Homo sapiens: one gene and its partner. The protein of the gene in region 1 interacts with the protein of each later gene in a pairwise test. Each region holds a gene or a part of one and is shown on either strand. Other genes may lie near its edges. The genes, in order: BOLA3 and GLRX3.

Region 1 (3,816 bases):
CCTTCTCTGCGTGCACCCTCCCAGCCGGCCTCTGCCCGCTGGTCTCTCTCTTTCTCTATCTGGGCCTTTGCCCAGATTGGACCTTCTGCCTGGGTTGCCCTTCCTCCCGTCCTCCACTCAGCTCAAATGCTGCCTCCCCTCCCTCCCCAGCAGGGAATGAATGCCGTTCCCCCACCCTCCCCGGCCCCCTTTTTTGGCTGTCGGTGTTTTCCGTCTTGTGTCCTGAAAACGGACATCTCTGCTGTCTGACCCTGCAACCTGTCAGCCCTTTGTGGACCAGTGCCCTTTGGGATCCATCTTTGTGTTTCTCATGGAACGTAGCCCTTTGCAGTGGATGTGACCCCTACAGCCCTAAGGCATGCTGGTGGTCTGCTGGGTGCTCCATCACTGAGCCCTCCCGGAAACTCTTGCAGTCCCATGTGATCTCTGGGGTCAGAATCAAGGCAGAAGACAAGACAGGGAAGACCTGGCTGGCCAGATGATCCCCAACCCGTGGCACTTTGGGTTTTATTCTCAGATCTGTACAAGCCACCTGGTGTGACTGGACCCATAGGTGCTGGTAATTTGAGTGTGTCCCTTGGCCTGAAACCACAGTTACAAGTGGTTAAGGAAGCAGTTTCTGGAATTGGACTTCCCACTTTCAAATCTGGGCTTTGCTACTTTCTAGCCATGTGACCTTGAGCAAGTTTTTCAACCTCACCCTTTGCCTCAGTTTCCTAATTGAGAGTAACAGTACTTGCTTCAAAGTGTTGCTGTGAGGATTCGTGATAAAGTACACGTTGACCACTGACAACACTGCCCGACACATAGTAAGCCTTCCATAAATGTGACCGCCATCACCATCATTGTCATCTCCAACACTGGAAGGAACCTGCACCAGTCTGGGGTGGGGAAGGGCTGTGATTCCCACAGTTTGGGGGAGTGTCACCTCACGGTCTTGGGATTAAGGTGTCTTCTGGCCCCCTATAGCAACATGTGCCTCTCCTCACACTTCCTGAGTAGACAGCCCAGTCACTTGTCTTTCATTCCCCCTCGAAAGCAGGCTTACTGCAGGACGGGGCTGTGTCCCCCACACCTAACAAAGGACCTGGCACATGGAAGGAGCCCAGTCAGTATTTCTTGAGAGTTTGCAGAGAGTGAGGAGAGTTGGCTTGTGTTTTCTTATTGGCTTACCCATGGAAATTATGTTTTAGTATCTGAAAGGCATTCTGTTTTGGAGAACTCACATCCTGACATTGGGGCACTTTTTAAAAATATATACTTCTTTTTTTTCCCTCCCACAGAGTATCACTCTGTCACCCAGGCTGGAGTGCAGTGGCGCTATCTCGGCTCACTGCAACCTCTGCCTCCTGGGTTCAAGCAATTCTTCTGCCTCAGCCTCCCAAGTAGCTGGGACTACAGGCGCCCGCCACCACACCTGGCTAATTTTAGTATTTTTAGTAGAGATGGGGTTTCACCATGTTGGCCAGGCTGGTCTCGAACTCCTGACTTCAGGTGATCCACCTGCCTCGGCCTCCCAAAGTGCTGGGATTACAGGCATGAGCCACCATGCCCAACCTTAAAAATATACATTTTTATATTTATATAGAGATGGGGTTCCACTATGCTGCCCAGGCTGGTCTTGAACTCCTTGACGATCCTCCTGCCTCGGCCTCCCTAAGTGTTGGGATTACAGGCGTGAGCCACTGTGCCCAGAGCAGCTGCATCCTGAGTTATTCTAGAGGCCTCTCCTCTGCCCCCAGCCAGAACAGCCCTTCTGGCTCAGGACTTGGGGGGGTCATGCAGCTCCACACTGGATGTCTGCAGGCAGCTGACATGAGGGGGTCCCCTGAGCCTGGCCACAGTACATTCTTAGGGGGCTGACACTTGTGTTAAAATATATGGACTTGGTCATAGGCAATTTTAGATGATTTAAGTCTGGAGATGTTGGCTTTGACAGTCGCATGAGAAGAATGAAAATGAAAATCTTCAGGAACAAGTCTGTTGGCCGGCAGGGTCTGAGCCGGGACCTGGAGCTGCCCTGCTCAGGACAGCTGTTGGGAATGGGGTTCTGACAGGCACTGCCCTAGGAGGAGGCAGAGACCTGGAATCAAGGGGAAGGCAAGGTGGTAACTGGACTCCACTCCCAGGGCCAGCTGGTCTCTTCAGGAGTGAGGTGGGGGTGGGGTAGGTGCCCCATCCAGATGCTCTCATGCCCAGGCTGTTTGGGTGGGGGCCTGGTGTCCTGACGGGGTGAAGCTTGCCTCATCTATTTTGCCTACTCACCCTATGCGTAGTAGTGTTCATCCTGGTGCTGTAGAGTCAGAATTTTCTGCCCAAAAGGCCTGAAAAGGTCGCCCAACCCATCCGATACTGGCATCCCTCCTGAGCTTCCCATCAGACTGTCCCTGCGGGATTCCCTGGAGGGGGCGCCCCCTGTCGGCACCCTCAGGAATGGACTCGTTCCTCTGGGACCCTGCTGCGCGGGGCTCAGCCTCTCCCAGGGCCCAGTGCGTCAGCCTTCTCTTGGGAAATACTTACTGGGCATTTGCTGTGGGCCACGCCCTAGGAGGCCTAGATGTTGAGGGTTTTGTACCAGGAGCACCTCCCTACCTGTCCTCCTGCCATCCTGGGGAGGTGTCAGCAAGGGTAGAGTAGGTAGGTAGCCACGGTGATCACTGAGTTGCCTTTTGAGGTGGACAGAGGTGAGATTTGAGCCTCATATTGGCAAATATTGCATGAGGCATTGACCACAGGTGCCCAGCGTCGTGCCTGCCACGTGGAAGGCAGTTGCTAAACAGCTGTTGCCGTCTCCCTGCCTCCGGCCTCTTTCCAGCTTAGGGGATTGCCCTCCCCTAAGGCGCCTCCACCAATGTCTTTCCCCTGCTCAGAGCCTTTACGTGGCTCCCCTGGTTGCCCAGAATCCAGTCCAGTCTTCCTAGCCTGGGATTGCCCATTCTTCATGTGATCTGCCTCAGTCTCCCTGACATGTGCCTACCTCAGTGAATCACGGGAGCTTCCCAGCCTCTCCTCACTTTGCTGTCCTGGGGCAGATGCCCTCTCACTCTTGCCTGCTCCACCTCTGGCTCCAGCTCCAGGGCTGCCTCCTGTGTGTGGCCCTTGTGCGTCCACCCCAGTCACCAGTGCAGTAGCTCACCTCGAACACCGGAAGCAGGGCTGTGCTGGCTTGAGTCTGGCAGTCCTCTGCTGCCCACATTCAGCCCATTTGTGTTGGACTTAATGCTACTTTCTCTTTCATTACTTTCCCACGCCTTTTCCTCTGTGTCCCCAGCACCTACTATAGTGCTGTGGGCATAGCAGGTGCTTAAGAATGGTTATCCAAGCTGCATCTTATTACCCATGGGACTTCGGCCAAGTCACTTCCCCCAGCAGGGCCCCAGTTTCCTTAACTGTAGAGTGACTCAGGTGATCTCTAAGACCCTGTGTGGCTGTAAGGGACTGTAGTGTGTTTTGGGAAGCCCTCAGGGGCTGCACAGAGAGCAGGGAGAAGGCATCAGGGAGGGGGAGTGCGCAGGGCCTGAGTGGGTGAAGCCCAGAAGGTTCCTCTGTCCAGGGTCAGTCACATGAAGGTGTGACTGGGCCCTCACCCAGCCAAGGTGGATGTAAGGAGGAGAGGCTGGTTGTGGTCCAGGCACAGACACAGTCTCTAGGGAGCATTCCACGCCTGCAGAGAGCAAGTGGCCCAGGGACCTTCGCCCAGTGATTATATGAGGCTTTTTCCAGGGACATTTCTGCCTGTCCGCAGAGTTGAGGGCCCTGCACTTGATTGTGGAGCTGGAGGGTGTGCAGTGTAGGCCAAGTGGGGCAGCTCATTGT
Region 2 (3,816 bases), on another chromosome or scaffold:
CACTCTTCTCTTGACTTCTATGTGACCCTTCAATCTTCCAGTACCGCCTAGGACCCCTTAATCTTCCAGTACCGCCTAGGACCCCTTCTCTGCTTTACTACATAAGTTCCTTCTCCTCCATCTGTCCTAACTTAATGTTGATAAGCCCCCTGAGGCGCTGACCTCGGGTCTCCTCTGTGTCCCTCTGTAACCCTTTGCGGTGTGGTGCTGGCACTGTTCCTTTCTTGATTCCCAAATCTGTATATCAGGTGCAGACTTCTTCCCTGAGCTCTAGACATCATACTAACAACCCATTAAACTTCCTTTCCTCAGGTTGGCAGCTTCTGCACTATGATTTGAGGCATAGTGCCACCACTAGCCATCAGTCTCTAAGCCAGAACTTGGAGCCAGCTGTAGACTGCCTTATCTGTCACCAAATCCTGCCCCTTCTACCTTCGAAATCCTCATGCTGCTCTTTGCTTCTGCTTTCCTGACACTTTATTGTAGGCTTATTCTCTTCTCGCTGGTATTATTTGATCAGTTTTTACAGTTTGTTATTCCTTTCCTTACCCATAGGTTAGTTGTCCTTGGTTCTTTTTGCCATGGAACATATTTCTGTTCGTGATTTTTCAGATTTTTTTGGGAGGTGGTATTATATTTGAACAGAATTCCATAAAACTGAAGGATTTTTTAGTTGGATATGACCATAGATATCTTTGCCAAGATAATTTTGTGTGAAAACTAACTAAAATAGATACTGAGTTATTAATATATTCTGTGTGTTCATACTATAAATGTTTAGAATTTTTTTTTTTTAAATGGGTCTTGCTCTGTTGCCCACACTGGAGTGTAGTGGTATGATCATGGCTCACTACAGCCTCGACCCCCTGGGCTCAAGTAATCCTTCCACCTTAGTCTGCCAGAATGCTGAGTACAGGCATGAGCCACCTTGCCTGGCCTAGAAAAATCTTTTTTTTTTTTTTGAGGCAGAGTCTTGCTCTGCCATCCAGGCTGCAGTGCAGTGGTGTGATCTCAGCTCACTGTAACCTCTGCCTTCTGGGTTCAAACAATTCTTCTGCCTCAGCCTCCTGAGTAGCTGGGATTACAGGCATGCACCAACACACCCGGCTAATTTTTTGTGCTTTTAGTAGAGTTGGGGTTTCACCACATTAGCCAGGCTGGTCTCGAACTGCCGACCTCAAGTGATCTGCCTGCCTCGGCCTCCCAAAGTGCTGGGATTACAGGTGTGAGCCACTGCTCTGGGTCTAGAAAAATCTTTTGTAGCATAATATTAAAAAGTATAAAAAAAAGTCTTTGTGAAAAGCAGTTCTATTCTTTTCCTCGTTTTGCACTGGCATGCCTTCATTTTCAACACTTACTGCTGTTTCTATGGTCACGGTTATGTCTCTCCATCACTATACCACATTTAAAAAGTAAATAATGATATTATTAGTAATGTGTCTACAACCATTTTTCACAAACATTGTGCCATTAATACAGAAATTCAGTTTCCACTTTGCCCAGGGGTCTGAAAATATGGTTGATTTGCCTGGCTTTTTTTTTTTTTTTTTCGTTTACTTTAAGTTCTGGGATACATATGCAGAATGTGCAGGTTTCTTACATAGGTATGCATGTGCCATGGTGGTTTGCTGCACCTATCAACCCATCATCTAGGTTTTAAGCCCTGCATGCATTAGGTATTTGTCCTAATGCTTTCTCTCCCCTTGCCCCCCACCCCCTGACAGGCCCTGGTATGTGATGTTCCCCTCCCTGTGTCCGTGTGGTTTCATTGTTCACCTCCCACTTATGAATGAGAACATGCAATGTTTGTTTTTCTGTTCCTGTGTTAGTTTACTGAGAATGGTGGCTTCCAGCTTCATCCATGTCCCTGCAAAGGACATGAACTCATTCCTTTTTATGACTGCATAGTATTCCATGGTATATATGTGCCACATTTCCTTTATCCAGTCTGTCATTGACAGGCATTTGGGTTGGTTCCAAGTCTTTGATATTGTAAATAGTGCTGCAATAACATAATGTGTGCATGTGTCTTTATAGTAGAATGATTTATAATCTTTTGGGTATATACCCAGTAATGGGATTGCTGGGTCAAATGGTATTTCTGGTTCTAGATCCTTGAGGAATTGCCACACTGTCTTCCACAATGGTTGAACTAATTTACACTCCCACCAACAGTGATTTACATGACTTTTAATTGAGGTGGATGAATATTCAGATCTACTTCAAATGGGCTTCACTTGAAATATCATTGAATTGAAAATTTATCTGAAAGAGTCTCAAGACCTTGCAGAGTGCTTTTATGTTCCAGTGTTGTATACAACAAAATTCTAGCAATATGAAAAACTTCAGACGGTTCTTTTAAAGCTTTCTTTTTTTTCTTTTTGGTAATTTATATCAGTATTTGTGTATTTCCAAAATTGGTATAATTTTAAATAAATGCATTTAATTGATTTACAGGTCCCTCCTTGTGGTCCATTTCTGGGCACCATGGGCTCCACAGTGTGCACAGATGAACGAAGTTATGGCAGAGTTAGCTAAAGAACTCCCTCAAGTTTCATTTGTGAAGGTATTTATATTTCAATGTCATGTCTTTTGTGAATTTAATTCTGATTTATGGGTTAGATTAGGGCTGGGTGCGGTAGCTCACACCTGTAATCCCAGCACTTTGGGAGGCTGAGGCGGGCAGATCACCTGAGTTCAGTAGTTTGAGACCAGCCCAGCCAACATAGTGAAACCCTGTCTCTACTAAAATACAAAAATTAGCTGGGCGTGGTGGCGGGTGCCTATAATCCCAGCTATGTGGGAGGCTGAGGCAGGAGAATCTTTTGAACCCGGGAGGCAGAGATTGCAGTGAGCCGAGATTGTGCCACTGCACTCCAGCCTGGGTGACAGAGCGAGACGCTGTCTCTAAATAAATAAATAAATAAAATAAAAAATTAGATTTTATTAACTAATATAAAGATGGAGTGGTATGGAATTCCAAATATGTATAATTGGTGTGGGATCTGTTATTTTTGCACATCATTCTTAAAAATCTTAAAATAATTTTGCATTTTTTTTTTTTTTGAGACAGAGTCTTGTTCTGTCGCCCAGGCTGGAGTGCAGCTCCAGCTCACTGCAACCTCTGCCTCCCCGGTTTAAGCGATTTTCCTGCCTAAGCCTCCCGAGTAGCTGGGACTACAGGCACATGCCACCACACCCAGCTAATTTTTTGTATTTTTAGTAGAGATGGGGTTTCACCATCTTAGCCAGGATAGTCTTGGTCTCTTGACCTCGTGATCTGCTCACCTTGGCCTCCCAAAGTACTGTGATTAGGCGTGAGCCACCACGCCTGGCCAAATGTACACTTTTCCTTGATCATCCTCGGGTGTGAGGCATGACTACCAAATGTCAAGGTGGCTGTGGGCTGGAGTTTTGGAGAGCACAGGCAGACAAATTAGTTCCCTGTGGGTAACTGTGGTTTTAAGGCATTTAAAATAGTAACACAAATTATGTCATTGAAAAGCTAGGTGTGCTGTAGAAAATAATTCAGGAAGGGGTATGTAAATGCTGCTAGGGACCAGGGAACAGGAAGTTGCTATCTTGGTTTAGATGAAGGCAGACCTCCGGGAGAAGGTGAAAGTCTTTCTAACCTGTTCAGAATGTAGAGGAAGATGGAAGCCAGTCAGTCTCTTCCTTGCCTCTTTTGTTTTTCACTCTGGTTATGTGTACTCCTACATTCCTGCTGTCTCTCTTGAGTGGATGAGTGCTAGGAAAGCTGTAGTTTTGACTGTGGATTAACTCAATTGGTTTAGCACGTTAAAGATATTATTCAGG

The links.
Region 2: the proteins of BOLA3 (region 1) and GLRX3 interact in binary tests that used the Homo sapiens proteins (3 or more experiments, as listed by UniProt).

The regions. Positions count from the first base shown.
Region 1 is NC_000002.12:74,137,744-74,141,559, reverse strand, and holds part of BOLA3 (bolA-like protein 3), read left to right. Parts: intron 1-3,816. UniProt on the Homo sapiens protein: Acts as a mitochondrial iron-sulfur (Fe-S) cluster assembly factor that facilitates (Fe-S) cluster insertion into a subset of mitochondrial proteins. Probably acts together with NFU1.
Region 2 is NC_000010.11:130,142,754-130,146,569, forward strand, and holds part of GLRX3 (glutaredoxin-3), read left to right. Parts: intron 1-2,457; coding exon 2,458-2,566; intron 2,567-3,816. UniProt on the Homo sapiens protein: Together with BOLA2, acts as a cytosolic iron-sulfur (Fe-S) cluster assembly factor that facilitates [2Fe-2S] cluster insertion into a subset of cytosolic proteins.